3 separate regions of the Homo sapiens genome follow, and regions 2 and 3 are each linked to region 1. Evidence: fine-mapped expression QTL. A gene starts in region 1. Each other region holds a variant in brackets. All regions are shown on one strand. Distances are between the middles of the regions.

Evidence for each region. PIP is the estimated chance that this variant, and not a neighbour inherited with it, causes the effect.
Region 2: its variant is the best candidate, but not a certain one, in a credible set for the expression of PNKP in CD8 T cells (CEDAR, PIP 0.81).
Region 3: its variant is the best candidate, but not a certain one, in a credible set for the expression of PNKP in whole blood (INTERVAL, PIP 0.82).

The regions. Positions count from the first base shown.
Region 1 is chr19:49,865,549-49,869,548 of GRCh38, forward strand. PNKP (polynucleotide kinase 3'-phosphatase) reads right to left here and starts at 2,028. Exons shown (of 17, transcript NM_007254.4): 1 at 1,921-2,028; 2 at 1,506-1,669; 3 at 851-897. The coding sequence starts at 1,656. It overlaps AKT1S1 (AKT1 substrate 1), which reads right to left. Exons shown (of 5, transcript NM_001098633.4): 5 at 3,491-4,000. RefSeq lists enhancers at 1-700, 701-1,483, 1,484-2,265 and silencers at 1,425-1,794, 1,865-2,164.
Region 2 is chr19:49,842,957-49,848,866 of GRCh38, forward strand. PTOV1-AS1 (PTOV1 antisense RNA 1) reads right to left here. Exons shown (of 4, transcript NR_040037.1): 2 at 3,767-3,797; 3 at 1,360-1,936. Among named protein-coding and RNA genes, the nearest start is that of PTOV1, 5.2 kb to the right of the region's middle. The variant C/T (reference allele first, on the strand shown) is at 2,412.
Region 3 is chr19:49,799,372-49,805,281 of GRCh38, forward strand. AP2A1 (adaptor related protein complex 2 subunit alpha 1) reads left to right here. Exons shown (of 23, transcript NM_130787.3): 9 at 1-124; 10 at 258-395; 11 at 597-779; 12 at 1,590-1,687; 13 at 2,019-2,250; 14 at 2,351-2,518; 15 at 2,610-2,770; 16 at 3,578-3,634; 17 at 3,736-3,818; 18 at 3,916-4,005. LOC124904742 (a long non-coding RNA gene) reads right to left here and starts at 779. Exons shown (of 2, transcript XR_007067290.1): 1 at 234-779. RefSeq lists enhancers at 853-1,353, 3,187-3,702, 3,703-4,216. The variant G/C (reference allele first, on the strand shown) is at 3,266.

The DNA of each region.
Region 1 (4,000 bases):
TCACTTTGGAACGGGCTTTGGAACGGTTACAGGTTTTCAGCCTTGTCCGAATCTTTTTTTTTTTTTTTTTTTTTTTTCCCCTGGAGATATAGGCTTGTTTTGTCGCCCAGGCTGGAGTGCAGTGGTGCAATCTTGGCTCATTGAAACCTGTGCCTCCTGGGTTCAAACGATTCTCCTGCCTCAGCTACCCGAGTAGCTGGGATTACAGGCACCCGCCACCATGCCCCGCTAATTTTTGTATTTTTAGTAGAGATGGGGTTTCGCCATGTTGGCCAGGCTGGTCACAAACTCCTGATCTCGGGTGATCCGCCCGCCTAGCCTCCCAAAGTGCTGGGATTACAGGCGTGAGCCACCGCGCCTGGCCGCCTTGTCCAATTTCTAAGGTCTTGGACAGGTACCCACCCCACTGAAACAGGCAACACTTCTTTCTTTACTGGACACATCCCCTTCTCTCCCAGCCATATTTTTTCTTTTCTTTTTTTGAGACAGGTTCTCGCTCTGTCACCCAGGCTGAAGTACAGTGTGGTGATCACTGCTCACTACACCCTTGACCTACTGGGCTCAAGGGATCCTCCCGCTTCAGCCTCCCGATTAGGAACTACAAGGACGCGCCACCATTCCCGCTAATTTTTTAGAGAGACAGGTTTCACCATGTCGCTCAGGCTGGTCTCGAACTCCTGGGTTCAAGCGATCCGCCCGCCTCGGCCTCCCAAAGTGCTGGGATTACAGGCTTGAGCCACCACGCCCGGCCCCAATCAGATTTTCCTAATGTACCCCTTCACTGACGGCTTGCAATTCCTCCCCAAATCCCATCCCCAGGCCTTGCTGGCCCTTGCAGAGGCACTGATACCTGTTTCACTGCCACTGTCCGGGTCTCAGGATCTGCGACCAGCTCCACTGAGGATTGGAGGGGTGGAGTCAGGATTTGCATCCTTGTGTGATTGGGTCCCTCATTTCTGGGGAGTGTGGCCTGCTTCAGGCTATAGCATCCAGGGAGTAAGAGGCAGTTTATTTCTACATGGGATTGGCTCCTTGACATGCAGTAGCCAGATAGTGGCACTAGGATTGCCTGACACTGGTCCTTGCAAGGGACAGGGAGGTACTTTTCTCTACAGAATTGGTTTCCTCCTTGACAAAAAATGTGGCTAGATATAGGTCCGGGGCTTGGCCTGTTACCATCCATCCCAACCTAGCGACATTTACTTTTCTCCACAGGATCATTTTTCTCTTGACGAAGGTCGTCGCCTGTTTCTGGATTTCCCGATGGCCTGAGCATCATCCGCGCAGTGAACATCCTCCCTAAATCGGCTCGATCCCCTCTCCCCCAAAGGATCTAGCTAATTCTAAATCAAGCACAAACTTTATCTTCCTGTACTCCCTAGAGAGCACCTTCCGACTTCGGGGCTGGCTGCACCACTGCAATCCCGCGTAGCAGCCAAGCGTCCCTCTGGATTGTTCCCGCTTTTGCAGCAGGCCACACCCCCTCCAGCTCAGGCCCCGCTCACCTTGAGTTCTGGAGCACTTCCGGTCCGTAACCTGGGTCAGGGGTCCCCTGCCCAGGACCAGGGCTTGCCCGTCCGAGGGCAGGAAGATGGGGGGCGCTCCCCCAGGGGGGCTCTCGAGCCACAAGCGGCCCGGGGCCTCCACCTCGCCCATCCTGGGTGCCGGCCTGGGGAGCAGGTAAACGGGCTTGAGCGGCGCACAGCCCCAATTTGCTGCAGGAAGTCCCGCCTCCTCCCACATCCACTAGAAAGTTTCCCCACCATTAACTGCTCCGGAAGTCCCACCCGCTCGCCTTCCGCGGGTCGACCCGTTTCCCAGGCGACGACGCGTGCTCCATCCCTCCCCGAGTTGCAATCCCCACTTTCCAGCGTACAGGCAGAGAGCCTCGCACATGCCTCCGCCCCGCCCCGTACTCACCCGGGACCGCGGCTTGGGCTCACGGCCACTTCCGACCAGGGAGGTCCTGCCCGAGGTGCCCCGCCTGCAACCCGGCCGGCGGCGGTCGGTTCCTCGGCGGACGGAAATGACTCGTCCCCTCGTGGGTGGGGGGCGGGGCCTGGCCTCCTCCCACAGCAGCCACGCCCCTTCCCCGACTCCCGGCCCCCAGGGTCTCTCGGCAGCCCTGACCTTCATCTCTCTTGCTGCAACGCGAGGCTCAGGCCGGTAGCGGGGACTGGATCCTCCGTTAGCAGATTTGCCTCTTTCCACCTTGACTTCTAATTTTCATCCCAGGGAGGAAGATTTTTTTCCCATCTGATGGTCATTGTCAGTCGAGGAAACCTCCGCCCCCGACAGCGCCCCTAAGTCCTTCTTTGGCTTCACCCTCGATGTTCTAGTTTCCTCATCTATAAAAAGGATAATCGTTTCCGCTTCGTGGGGTTACCATGACGATTAAAGGAGCTAACACGTGACAAAAGCTTTAAAAAATGGGTGGTAGTGAGCCCTGTTTAAGTCTTTTTTTTTTTTTTTTTTTGAGACGGAGTCTCACTCTGTCGCCCAGGCTGGAGTGCAGTGGCGCGATCTCGGCTCACCTGCAAGCTCCGCCTCCCGGGTTGACGCCATTCTCCTGTCTCAGCCTCCCGAGTAGCTGGGACTACAGGCGCCCGCCACCACGCCCAGCTAATTTTTTGTATTTTGAGTAGAGACGGGGTTTCACCGTGTTAGCCAGGACGGTCTCGATCTCCTGATCTCGTGATCCGCCCACCTCGGCCTCCCAAAGTGCTCAGATCCGTTTAAGTCTTATTTAGTGTTAGCATTCTTTCGGTAGTGGTCTGGTGGGACTACGTTTACCTAGTCCTAATTTCGGACGAGGTTCCACCTGCTTTCTAACCTCCAGCCATTTTTTTTTCCCTTTGGAGAAGGGGTCTCACTGTGCTGCCCAGGCTGATCTCGACCTCCTGGTGTCATGTGATCCTCCCGCCTTGGCCTCCCAGCGTGTTGGGCTTATAGGCGTGAGGCACCAAGCCCAGTTGCTCCAGTCCTTTTATAATAGAAGACTCCCGGCTGGAGTTCCTGGCTTTGCTGGTGAATATGTGGGCTCTGTCTCCAACACTCACCTCCTCAAGATTGGGTTCCATGGTCACATAAGACTGGGATGCTCTCCTCCACCCCATGAACCTGTGTCTTCATATCTATAAAATGGGCACAAAGCCAGGCGCCGTGGCTCACGCCTGTAATCCCAGCACTTTGGGAGGCCAAGGCGGGTGGATCATTTGAGGTCAGGAGTTCAAGACCATCCTGACCAACATGATGAAACCCTGTTTCTACTGAAAATACAAAAATTACCCGGGCGGCAGTGGCGCGTAATCCCAGCTACTCGGGAGGTTGAGGCAGGAGAATCGCTTGAACCTGGGCGAGAGTGGGACCCTGTCTCAAAAAAGTAAATAAAATGGGCACAGTAATTCCAACCCCCAGCTATTCACTGATAATCAGACGCTGCCATTCGGTTTCAGAAAATGTTGAATGAACACTCACAACACACTTCACATTTATCTCAGAGGTAAAACTCTTTAATCTCAGAGCGCCCCTCCCAACTGCCGATCCCCCAACCCCTCACTCTCTCCCCCACACCAGGGCCGGAGAGTGAGGGCCCCTGCCCCCCACCTTGGGTGGACGAGGGCCCTTTAAGGCACCTGTGGAGGTGGGGGGCGAGGGGCGGGAGCTGGTACCATCCTGGATGCAGGGACGGGCTTCGATTGGCAGGCTGTTGTGGGGATGGATGGAACCAATGAAAGGGGGTGCCAGAGGCAGGGACAGTTTGGGGCCATCCCTGAGGGGGTCAGGGAACAAGTTGTCGGGACGTGGGCAAAGACGACCCCAGTCCCCGTAGTGTAAAGAACGTAAATTGAAGGCCCCGGGCCAATTCTGGGAAGAGGAGGGCTTGGCCACGCCCCCAGGAAGCTGGAGCCAATTGGGAGGGAGAACTCAGGAAAAGCGGACGGTGACTATGTAGAGACTGGTCAAGCCCTTTACAGGATTTGAGCCAATCAAAAAAAGA
Region 2 (5,910 bases), 22 kb before region 1:
ATGAGAAAAAGGACACCTTCTCAAAAGGGGTGTTAAGAATATATTTGTTTCAAGGTACACAAAACACTAACATGTATTTTCTTACCATCTTGGCATTTAAAAAAAATTAACTTTTAAAATATATTGAGTTACACACACTACAACAGTTTCCCAAAATGAAAGGGCGCTGAAATGTGTGGAATAAAAAGTGGAAGTACCACCAGGCATGGTGGCTCACGCCTGTAATCCCAGCACTTTGGAAGGCCAAGGCGGGCAGATCACCTGAGGTCAGGAGTTCGAGACCAGCCTGGCCAACAGGGTGAAACCCCATCTCTACTAAAAATACAAAAATTAGCCAGCATGGTGGCATGTGCCTGTGATCCCAGCTACCCAGAAGGCTGAGGCACGAGAATCACTAGAACCCAGGAGGCAGAGGCTGCAGTGAGCAGAGATTGTGCCACTGACTCCAGCCTGGGAGACAGACCAAGACTCTGTCTCAAAAACAACAACAAAAAGTGGAACTACCCTATCACACCTCACTCTCGCCTCTCCTGCCCAAACACACACCCTGAGCAAACCACTTACCTCCCTAGAGGCTGATGTACCAGTTCTGCATTTGGGTTTACATGCATGCGGTTGTGGATATATTTATAGTTTAATTTTTTTGTATAAGTGAGTCAATTTCTTTGTTCTTTAGCTTGCTTTTTTTTTTCTTCCAACCAAAGTAATGGCCATTATTTATTTATTTATTTATAGACAGAGTCTCACTCCGTTGCCCAGGCTGGAGTGCAGTGGCGTGATCTCAGCTCGCTGCAACCTCTGCCTCCCAGGTTCAAGCTATTCTCAGCCTCCCAAGTAGCTGGGATTACAGGCAGGAGCCACCATGCCTGGCTAATTTTTCGGGTTTTTTTTTTTTTTTTTTTTTTGAGACGGAGTCTCACTCTGTTGCCCAGGCTGGAATGCAGTGGCGCAGTCTCGACTCACTGCAACCTCCACTTCCCAGGTTCAAGCGATTCTCCTGCGTCACCCTTCCGAGTAGCTGGGATTACAGGCGCCCACCACCATGCCCAGCTGATTTTTGTATTTTTAGTAGAGATGGGGTTTCACCATGTTGGCCAGGCTGGTTTCAAACTCCTGACCTCAGGTGATCTGCCCACCTCAGCCTCCCAAAATGCTGGGATTACAGGTGTGAGCCACCGACCTGGCCTGCCTGCACTGTTAATTACCTGTTCCTCTATGTCCCCACTTCTCATGGTGGCCTCAGGTAGTGCACTAAATGGACGCATTTCAGTTCCACGAGCCATCCTGCCTATAAGTTATCTGTTGTGTAACAAACCCCACCACCGAGTGGCTTAAAACAAGAAGCATTTATTGCCTCACCGTTGCTGGGGGTCAAGAATCCAGGCTTGGCTGAGCTGCTGGCTCCCAGGCTCTCGGGGTTGCGGTCGAGCTGGTGGCTGGGGCTGTGCAGTCATCGGAAGGCTCCGTGAGGAGGGCCCACTTCCAGCCCACTCACATGCCTGTTGGCAGGATTCAGTTCCTCACAGGTGATGGGGCCGAGAGCCTCAGTTCCTAGCTGTTGGCTGGAGGTCTCCCTTGTTTTCTCGCCGTTGCAGGCCTCTTCACAGGGCACCTTGCAGTTGCAATGTGGCATCCAGCTTCTCTAGAAATATGAGAAGGGCTGGGTGCGGTGGCTCATGCCTGTAATCCCAGCACTTTTGGGAGGTCAAGGCGGGTGGATCACCTGAGGTCAGGAGTTTGAGACCAGCCTGGCCAACATGGTGAAACCCTGTCTCTACTAAAAATACAAAATATTAGCTGGGCGTGGTGGCAGGCATCTGGGAAATCCCAGCTACTCGGAATGCTGAGGCAGGAGAATCGCTTGAACCCAGGAGGTGGAGGTTGCAGTGAGCCAAGAACACACCATTGCACACCAGTCTGGGCTGCAAGAGTGAAACTGTCTCAAAAAAAAAGAAAAACAGAAATGAGAGAGGACGCCCAAGGTGGAAGCTGCAGTCTTTTGTAACCCAATCTTGGAAGTGATATCTTGTCACTCTTGCTATATTCTGTACATTACAACAAGTTGCTAGGTTCTGCCCACACTCAAGCTGAGAGGACAGTGCAGACAGGAGGTGAGGGTCATGGGGGCTGTCTTTCAGGGTGCCCACCACACTGCACCCTGCCAGTTGAGGGCCTGTCCAGTTTTTCTTTTATTTCTTCTTTTTTTTTTTGAGATGGAGTCTCGCTCTATTGCCCAGGCTGGAGTGCACTGGTGTGATCTCAGCTCACTGCAGCCTCCGCCTCCCGAGTAGCTGGGATTACAGGCACATACCACCACACCCAGCTAATATTTGTATTTTTAGTAGAGATGGGATTTTGCCATGTTGCCCAGGTTGGTCTCGAACTCCTGACCTCAAGTGATCCACCCACCT[C/T]GGGCTCCCAAAGTGCTGGGATTACAGGCGTGAGCCACCACGCCCGGCCAGTTTTTCACTATTATCAGACATGCTGGAGAGGATGAATGTGTATTTTTTTAACCCACTTGTGCAGGCATTCCTATGGGATGCATTCCCAGCAGCAGAATTTCAAAACTAAGTATGCCAACTTTATTTACATGACCCAAAAAATGTTGTATTCATGTTTCGCATATACGAGAAACCTTCCTATGGTTCACACTTGGAGGGGCTCCAGAAACCAACCAATGCAGTCTCTCTCAGCTCCCTCTAGAGATCAGTTACCAATTGCTTAAGTGTCTTTTCAGAGAGACGTATAAGCAGGTACAAGCAAATAGAGAAACTGATTGATTTTCTGGCTTTTCTATCCAGTGGCAATCTCCTTTATTCTATCATTTTTTTGTTTGTTTTTCAATCTAACAACATATCTTGAAGTTTGGACAAAAAGCCTTCATTTTATTTATTTTTAAAAATAGCCCAGGGGGCTGGGCACAGTGGCTCCTGCCTGTAATCTCAAACCCAGGACGCTGGGTTTGGGGATAGGGCAGATGTATGTCTTTTACAATCTGGGAACACTCAGCATGGTCTGTGCTGGAGGGCAGATGGTGGCAGAGAGGCTGAGAAGCGCGGCAGTGACGAGGGTAAGACGGTCCCAAGCCCGAGGGGCTTGGCCCCTTGTTTATTCCACAAAGTGGAGGCCAACACCTACTGAGATTAAGAACCTGGGCCCTGTCCCTGTCCCGTGTCTCCGCAGCCTGTGACGTCAGGCTTTTGCTTCCAGATCCTTGGTTTCCCCATCTGTGGAGTGGGGATTAAAAGATTGTTGAACTCATGGCCTGCTGTGTGAGAATTCAGTGAGTTCAGACATGAAGTTCTTGAGAAATATTAACTACTATTATTGCCAGGGGTCTCACTCTGTCAACCCTGGAGTGCAGTGGCATGACCTTGGTTCACTGCAGCCTCTGCCTAGAGGGGTCAAGCAGTCTTCCCACCTCCACTTGTCGAGTAGCTGGGACTACAGACACGCACCACCATGCCCAGCTAATTTTTGTATTTTTTGTAGAGACAGAGTTTTACTCTGTTGCTCAGGCTGGTCTCGAACTCCTGGCCTCAAGTAATTCTCCTACCTCAGCCTCCAGAGTAGCTGGGACTAGAGACATGTAACACCACGCCTGGCTAGTTTTATAGTTGTAGAGATGGGGTCTTGCTATGTTGCCCAGGCTGGTCTCAAACTCCTGGGCTCAAGCAATGCTCCAACCTCAGCCTCCCAAAGTGTTGAAACTACAGGTGTGAGCCTCTGCGTCTGGACACACACGATGATGACAAAGTTGAAATACCTAGAGTTTGCAAAGCATGTATCAGGCAGACCTTTAAAAAAAAAATCAGCCATAAACTATTTTGTAATTGCAAAGAAAGAAAAGAAAAATCCAAGCCAGAGATGATCTTACTCCCATTTCTTAGCATAAAGCATTTTATTATCTTTTTTATTTGTTTGTTTTGAGACGGAGTCTCACACTGTTACCTGGGCTGGAGTGCAGTGGCACAATCTCAGCTCAATGCAACCTCCGCCTCCTGGGTTCAAGTGATTCTCCTGCCTCAGCTTCCCAAGTAGCTGGGATTACAGGCACCCACTACCATGCCCAGCTAATTTTTTGTATTTTTAGTACAGACATGGTTTCACCATGTTGGCCAGGCTGGTCTTGAACTCCTGACCTCATGATTTGCCCGCCTCAGCCTCCCAAAGTGCTGGGATTACAGGTGTGAGCCACCGCACCCAGCCTATTAGCATTTTTTGAGACAGAATGTCGCTCTGTCGCCCAGATTGGAGTGCAGCTCACTGCAACCTCCGCCTCCCCGGGTTTAAGCAATTCTCCTGCTTGAATTGGAGGATCAATCAGGAGACTGTATTTGTATTCCTGAGTAGCTGGGATTGCAGGCGCCTGCCACCACGTCTGGCTAATTTTTGTATTTTTAGTAGAGATGGGGTTTCACCAGGTTGGCCAGGCTGGTCTCCTGACAACAGGTGATCCACCTGCCTCAGCCTCCCAAAGTGCTAGGATTACAGGCATGAGCCACCGTGCCCGGCCAGTATAAAACACTTTGTCCATGTTGTCATTGTGTCCTAGCCTATGTCATCCAACCTATATGTACTGCCAGTTTGTTCTTCTAGGAAACTCAGACTTGGTAGTTGATTGGTTTAACAAATGTTGGTTAAACTGGGATTATTTGGGAAAAAAAAATTGTGTATATCAGGAAAGGCCAGATTACCCCCAGATTGCAGTGGCTTGAAACAGCCAAGGTGGATTTTGTCACTCGTGCTGTATTGAGTGTCAGCTTGGAGCCCGTGCGGACAGATCATGAAGGTTGCCAATGGACATAGTAAAGGCAGAGGGGTCTGGTCTTCCATTAGCAATTATGTGCTCTTGCTGAATTCACATGTGTCACTTCTGCTCATATCTCATTGGCCAGATGTAATCACATGGCCTCACACCTTACTGGCCAAAATTAATCACATGGCCGCACTCAAGCTAAATGGGGTCAAATGCTGGCCAAGTGTGGAGCTAGAAATATATGGCAAATAGCACTAACGGCCATCTTAACACTTTAAACATCTTATTTTAACCAAGAACATTTAAACAGACATCTCTTGTACGTAGGACCAAGACCCTTTCTTTCAGTATTGGTCTCCTAGTTAGCACACGACATTACATTCTTGTTTTTGAGACAGGGTCTCACTTTGTCACTTGGACTGAAGTGCAGTGGTGTGAACACGGCTCACTACAGCCTCAATCTCCTGGACTCAAGAGATCCTCCCACCTCAGCCTCCTGAGTAGCTGGGACCACAGGTGCATGCCACCATGCCTAGAAAATTATTGTTGTTTTTGTAGAGGTGGGAGTCTCACTGTGTTGCCCAGGCTGGTCTCGAGCTCCTGGGCTCAAGCAATCTTCCCACCTCAGCCTCCCAATGTGTTGGGATTACGGGCATGAGCCACTGCGCCCAGTAGAACATCACATTCTTGTATAAGCTCCACCCACAAACCACAATGAGTCATTTTTTTAAGTGGCTTGAGAACCTAAAGACATTTATGAAACAAACTGGGGGCTGAGTCTTCCTAGGTTTTTATAAGCTTTTTCATTAAATAATTTACAGTTGCTTTACTTGTACCTAACTTGGCAGCATTTTTTTTTTTTTAAGAGATGGAGTCTTGCTTTGTTGCTCAGGCTGGAGTTGCAGTGGTGAGATCTCAGCTCACTGCAACCTCCACCCCCTGGGTTCAATCGATTCTCCTGCCTTAGCCTCCAGAGTAGCTGGGACTACAGGCATACACCACCATGCCCGGTTAACTTTTGTATTTTTAGTGGAGACGGTGTTTCACCATGTTGGCCAGACTGGTCTTGAACTCCTGACCTGAAGTGATCTGCCCACCTCGGCTTCCCAAAGTGCAGAATTACAGGTGTGAGCCACCACGCCTGGCATGTT
Region 3 (5,910 bases), 65 kb before region 1:
CCTGCAGCACCGGGAGACCAACCTGCGCTACCTGGCCCTGGAGAGCATGTGCACGCTGGCCAGCTCCGAGTTCTCCCATGAAGCCGTCAAGACGCACATTGACACCGTCATCAATGCCCTCAAGGTGTGAGCCCTTGGAGCCCACCCCGGGCCTGCCACCCCCCTCAGAAAGACCAGAGGCTCAGAGGCCCTTGGGTGGCCAACCCTGTGCCAACAGGGAGTCTAAAACACACCTGGGCTCTGCTCTCCGCCCTCAGACGGAGCGGGACGTCAGCGTGCGGCAGCGGGCGGCTGACCTCCTCTACGCCATGTGTGACCGGAGCAATGCCAAGCAGATCGTGTCGGAGATGCTGCGGTACCTGGAGACGGCAGACTACGCCATCCGCGAGGAGATCGTGAGTGCTGTGGGGTGCGGGCTGGACTCTTGGGTCTGAGGCAGGAGGTGGCTGGGGGCCTGGATTCCTAAGTCTAAGGGAGGAGGGGCTGGGGCCTGGACTCCTGGGTCTCCAGATGGGGGCAGTGGTGAGCCCAGATCCAGGTGAGTGAAAGCCCGACATGGCCTGCGGCACACTCTCTCTCACACGCCCCGGCGGCAGGTCCTGAAGGTGGCCATCCTGGCCGAGAAGTACGCCGTGGACTACAGCTGGTACGTGGACACCATCCTCAACCTCATCCGCATTGCGGGCGACTACGTGAGTGAGGAGGTGTGGTACCGTGTGCTACAGATCGTCACCAACCGTGATGACGTCCAGGGCTATGCCGCCAAGACCGTCTTTGAGGTCAGCATCCCTGACCCTGACCCTATGACCCCACGACAGGACCTAGAGGCAGAGCAAGGATGGCCGGGGCCGTGGCGCCTGCCAGCCCGCAGCCACCCTCCTTCTCCTGCACTGCCGTGACCTCAAAATGGGGCCTCTGCCTCTCTGGGCCAACCCAGGGGACCCAGGGCTATGGTCTCATGGGCCTGATGTGAGGAGTCCCCAGGGCATGGGCATGGGGCACCCAGTGTGCAGTCCTGGCCCCCGGATCTCGGTAGTTTCCCTCTGCCCCAGGAAAGGGGCCCCACACAGTCCTGTTTTTTGTTTGTTTGTTTGTTTGTTTCTGGAGACGGAGTCTCACTCTGTTGCCCAGGCTGGAGTGGGGAGTGAGTGCCGTGGTGCGATCTCGGCTCACTGCAACCTCGGCCTCCCAGCGTCAAGCCATTCTCCTGCCTCAGCCTCCCCAGTAGCTGGTACTACAGGCACGCGCCACCACACCCAGCTAATTTGTTTGTATTTTTAGTAGAGACGGGGTTTCACCATGTTACCCAGGCTGGTTTGAAACTCCTGAGCTCAGGCAATCTGCCCGCCTCGGCCTCCCAAAGTACCAGGATTACAGGCATGAGCCACTGCTTCCGGCCCACAGCCCTGTTTTACTTCCTGTGTGAGCTTGGGCCCGTCACTCAACCTTTCTGTGACTCAGTTTCCCACCTATAACCCCACCTGCAGCAGAGCTTTCAGTGTTCCACCAGTCAGTAGGTGGCTGCACCCACCGATCCCGGAGAGGGCGCTCATTGTTGTCCTCTCCACGCCCTTCCCCACCCCACTCAGGCGCTCCAGGCCCCTGCCTGTCACGAGAACATGGTGAAGGTTGGCGGCTACATCCTTGGGGAGTTTGGGAACCTGATTGCTGGGGACCCCCGCTCCAGGTGAGGGAGCCTCAGCCTGCAGGGGAGAACACACATGCTTCTGAGGGGTCCAGGGCTTGGGGGATCCCCAGGGGTCTCAGGGCAGGCAGTGATGGGCTCCCATCCTCTCGGCCTCCACCCCAATCCACCTAGCAGGGTAAGAAAGGAGCTTAGTCCCAGGATCGTGGACAGAGTGTGACTGCGGCCCCTGTCTGGTGCCTGGGGAGGGCCACTCCCCTCCAGCAGCTTGGGGTCCTGGGACGGGTCCATCCTAGGGAGGGGCACCTCTCGAGGGGGTTTCTGGGAGAGGGCAGTGGAACCTGGCCCCGCTGACACCCACTCCTGCACACAGCCCCCCAGTGCAGTTCTCCCTGCTCCACTCCAAGTTCCATCTGTGCAGCGTGGCCACGCGGGCGCTGCTGCTGTCCACCTACATCAAGTTCATCAACCTCTTCCCCGAGACCAAGGCCACCATCCAGGGCGTCCTGCGGGCCGGCTCCCAGCTGCGCAATGCTGACGTGGAGCTGCAGCAGCGAGCCGTGGAGTACCTCACCCTCAGCTCAGTGGCCAGCACCGACGTCCTGGTCAGAGCCCTGTCCCCCCACCCCACCCCTCTTGCACACCCCCTTCCCGCCCTCCCCTCCTCCTGACCCGAACTGACCTTCCCCACCCCGACCGCGCCAGGCCACGGTGCTGGAGGAGATGCCGCCCTTCCCCGAGCGCGAGTCGTCCATCCTGGCCAAGCTGAAACGCAAGAAGGGGCCAGGGGCCGGCAGCGCCCTGGACGATGGCCGGAGGGACCCCAGCAGCAACGACATCAACGGGGGCATGGAGCCCACCCCCAGCACTGTGGTGAGTCCCCTGGGGTGGGCCCTGCCAGGGTGCCTGGGGCTGGGTCCTGCCGGGCGCCGCCTGTCCTCACCGTGACCTGCGCTTCCTACAGTCGACGCCCTCGCCCTCCGCCGACCTCCTGGGGCTGCGGGCAGCCCCTCCCCCGGCAGCACCCCCGGCTTCTGCAGGAGCAGGGAACCTTCTGGTGGACGTCTTCGATGGCCCGGCCGCCCAGCCCAGCCTGGGGCCCACCCCCGAGGAGGCCTTCCTCAGGTAGCACCCCCTGGGCCCGGGCCCCTTCTCGCGGCCACCCCCAGGGCTGTCCCTTCTCGGCCTCTGTCCCCGTTTTCCCTGAGCCCCTCCCCCGCCCCCGACTCGCTCCTCTCTCCATCCTGATGCCTTCGCCAGCCCTGGCTGCTGCCTCCCCTGCCCCAGCCTCCCTGCTCACGCCCTCCCTCTGCCACTCTGGACTCCGCCGACCCTGGCCACCCTTCGTTGTCTCCTTTCCTGTCACCGTTTCTCAGCCTGCTCTTCCTTTTCTCCTTCTCTCCTTCCCTCTTCCGTCCCTCCCTCTCTGTCTCTCTTCTGCCCTCTCGCTGCCTATGTGGAATTGGCTGCCTGCCACGCCTGTCTTCTCTTGTCTGCTCTGGGATTGGATGGCTCAGCGAGCTGGAGCCGCCTGCCCCCGAGAGCCCCATGGCTTTGCTGGCTGACCCAGCTCCAGCTGCTGAGTAAGGGGTGGCCTGGGGTGGGAGGTCGGTCGGGGGG[G/C]CGGACTCGGGTGTCCCCAGGGAGAGTTAGGGGACTGGGAGCCCTCGTCAACGGGTTCCTGATGAGCAGCAGAGGCAGGGACTTGGAGGAAAGGGAAACTTGGTGTCTGCCGATGCGGGGGCACGGGCCAGGGTTCTATTCCCATTGGAGGCCACTGCTGGATGGATGCGAGGTTCCTCGAGGCTCTGTGAGGGGTCTGGATATGTGGTTCTGGGGTTCTGTCCTTAGGGCTTGTTCTCGCACTCAATCGCTCTGGGCCTTTGCCCCTCCCCACCAAGTTCCTTCCCATCTCACTCTGCTCCATGCCTCCAGCCCAGGTCCTGAGGACATCGGCCCTCCCATTCCGGAAGCCGATGAGTTGCTGAATAAGTGAGTCCTGGGAGTGGTGGGGGAGGGGAACGGGACAGGTGCGGAGCCCAGGCCAGGTGCAGACAGGCACCCCCGTCATCTTGCGCCCCCTGCCCCCTCAGGTTTGTGTGTAAGAACAACGGGGTCCTGTTCGAGAACCAGCTGCTGCAGATCGGAGTCAAGTCAGAGTTCCGACAGAACCTGGGTGTGTCCCGGGGGACTGTGGGAATGGGTCGGAGGGAGACCTTGGGGAAGGGGTCAGAGGGACTCAGATGGAGCTCTGCCTCCCCCACCTACTGCAGGCCGCATGTATCTCTTCTATGGCAACAAGACCTCGGTGCAGTTCCAGAATTTCTCACCCACTGTGGTTCACCCGGGAGACCTCCAGACTCATATCCTCTCAGGCCCGGCCCAGCCTCCTGCCTCTCCACGTCGGCCTTCCTCACCGTGGGGAAGCCGGCTGACCCAGGTCCACACTTCTCTTCAGCCTCTCTTGGGCACGCAATTAGTTCTCTGAGATTGAGTGTCTGCATCTGTTAAGATGGGGGTGGGATTCCTTCCCCCAGGACAGGGGATGACAGTGAAGTGGTGTGTGGGAGGCTTTACTTCCAGAACTCCACCTGCTCCAGGCCTCATTTTGTCCCTGTCTGGCACCTTCCGTGTCCTGCCATCGTCCTCCACTGGGCTCCATGTCATGATGCCAGCACCGCCTGCACTCAGGAGCCAGGCCTGCGGGTCCAGACGCTGATCAGGCCTGATCTGGGCTGAGTCACTTTGCCTCTCTGGGCTCTCCTGTCCCCGCTGTGAAGTGTATGTAGACCCTCCTCTTCCTCATAGGGTTATTGTGAAGATCAGAGTGTCTGGAAAACCCTGGAAGGGCGGCTGGAGGTATCAGTCCCCCCTGCCCGTTCTCTGGGCCTCCATTGCCACATTCATGAAATTAGAAAAGCTCGACCTGAAAACTCCTTCTGGCCGGGCATGGGGGCTCACACCTGTAATCCCAGCACTGGCAGGCTGAGGCCAGTGGATCATTTGAGGTCAGGAGTTCAAGACCAGCCTGGCCAACATGGTGAAACCCCATCTCCACTAAAAATACAAAAATCAGCTGGGTGGTAGTGGCACGCGACTGTAATCCCAGCTACTCAGGAGGCTGAGACAGGAGAATCGCTTGAGCCTGGGAGGTGGTGGTTGTGGTGAGCCGAGATTGTACCACTACACTCCAGTCTGGGCGACAGTCTCAAAAAAAAGAAAAAGAAAAGAAAAAATTCCTTCTTCGGTCGGGCACGGTGGCTCACGCCTGTAATCCTAGCACTTTGAGTGGCCAAGGTGGTTGGATCACGAGGTCAGGAGATCGAGACCATTCTGGCTAACATGGTGAAACCCCTTCTCTACTAAAAATACAAAAAATTAGCCGGGCGTGGTGGTGGGCGCCTGTAGTCCCAGCTACTCGGGAGGCTGAGGCAGGAGAGTGGCGTGAACCCAGGAGGCGAAGTTGCAGTAAGCCGAGATTGCGCCGCTGCACTCCAGCCTGGGCGACAGCGAGACTCCGTCTCAGGAAAAAAAAAAAAAAAAATTCCTTCTTTCATAATTTCCAGAGGCTCGTGCAGGCAGCTCAGTGGAGGCAGTGACAAAAGAACATGAGACCCAGGCCTTCCCAGTGGGCTACTGACACGGATGCAGATGATGATAACACTAATTGCTACCATCTTTGTGTACTTACCATGTGCCGGGCACACAGACAAGTACTTGTGATGGATTCTTTTCTTTTCTTTTTTTAAATAGAGTTGAGGCCTCGCTATGTTGCCCAGGCTGGTCTCAAACTCCTGGGCTCAGTGATCCTCCCCACCTTGGCCTCCCAAAGTGCTGGATTACAGGCGTGAGCCGCCACACCCGGCTGGATTATTTCATCAACTCCTGAGGACATTTTACACATGTCCTTGTGTTGAGACAGGGCCTCACTCACCCAAGCTGGAATGCAGTGGCATGAACACTGCTCACTGCAGCCTCGAACTTCTGGGCTCAAGGCATCCTCCTGCCTCAGCCTCCCAAGTAGCTGGGACTACAGGTGCACATCACCATGCCTGGCTAATTTTTTTGTAGAGATGGGGTCTTGCCATGTTGCCCAGGCTTACACATGTCCAGAGGCTAAGAGAGGTTAAGTGGTTGCCCACAGCCACTCAGGTGGTTAAGAGCTGGGATTCAAACCCAAGTCAGCCTCCAGAGCTAATACTATTATGTCTCAGTGCGGTGTGACATTGTGGAAGGCCAAAGGAGGCACCTAGGGGGCGCCTCAGAGG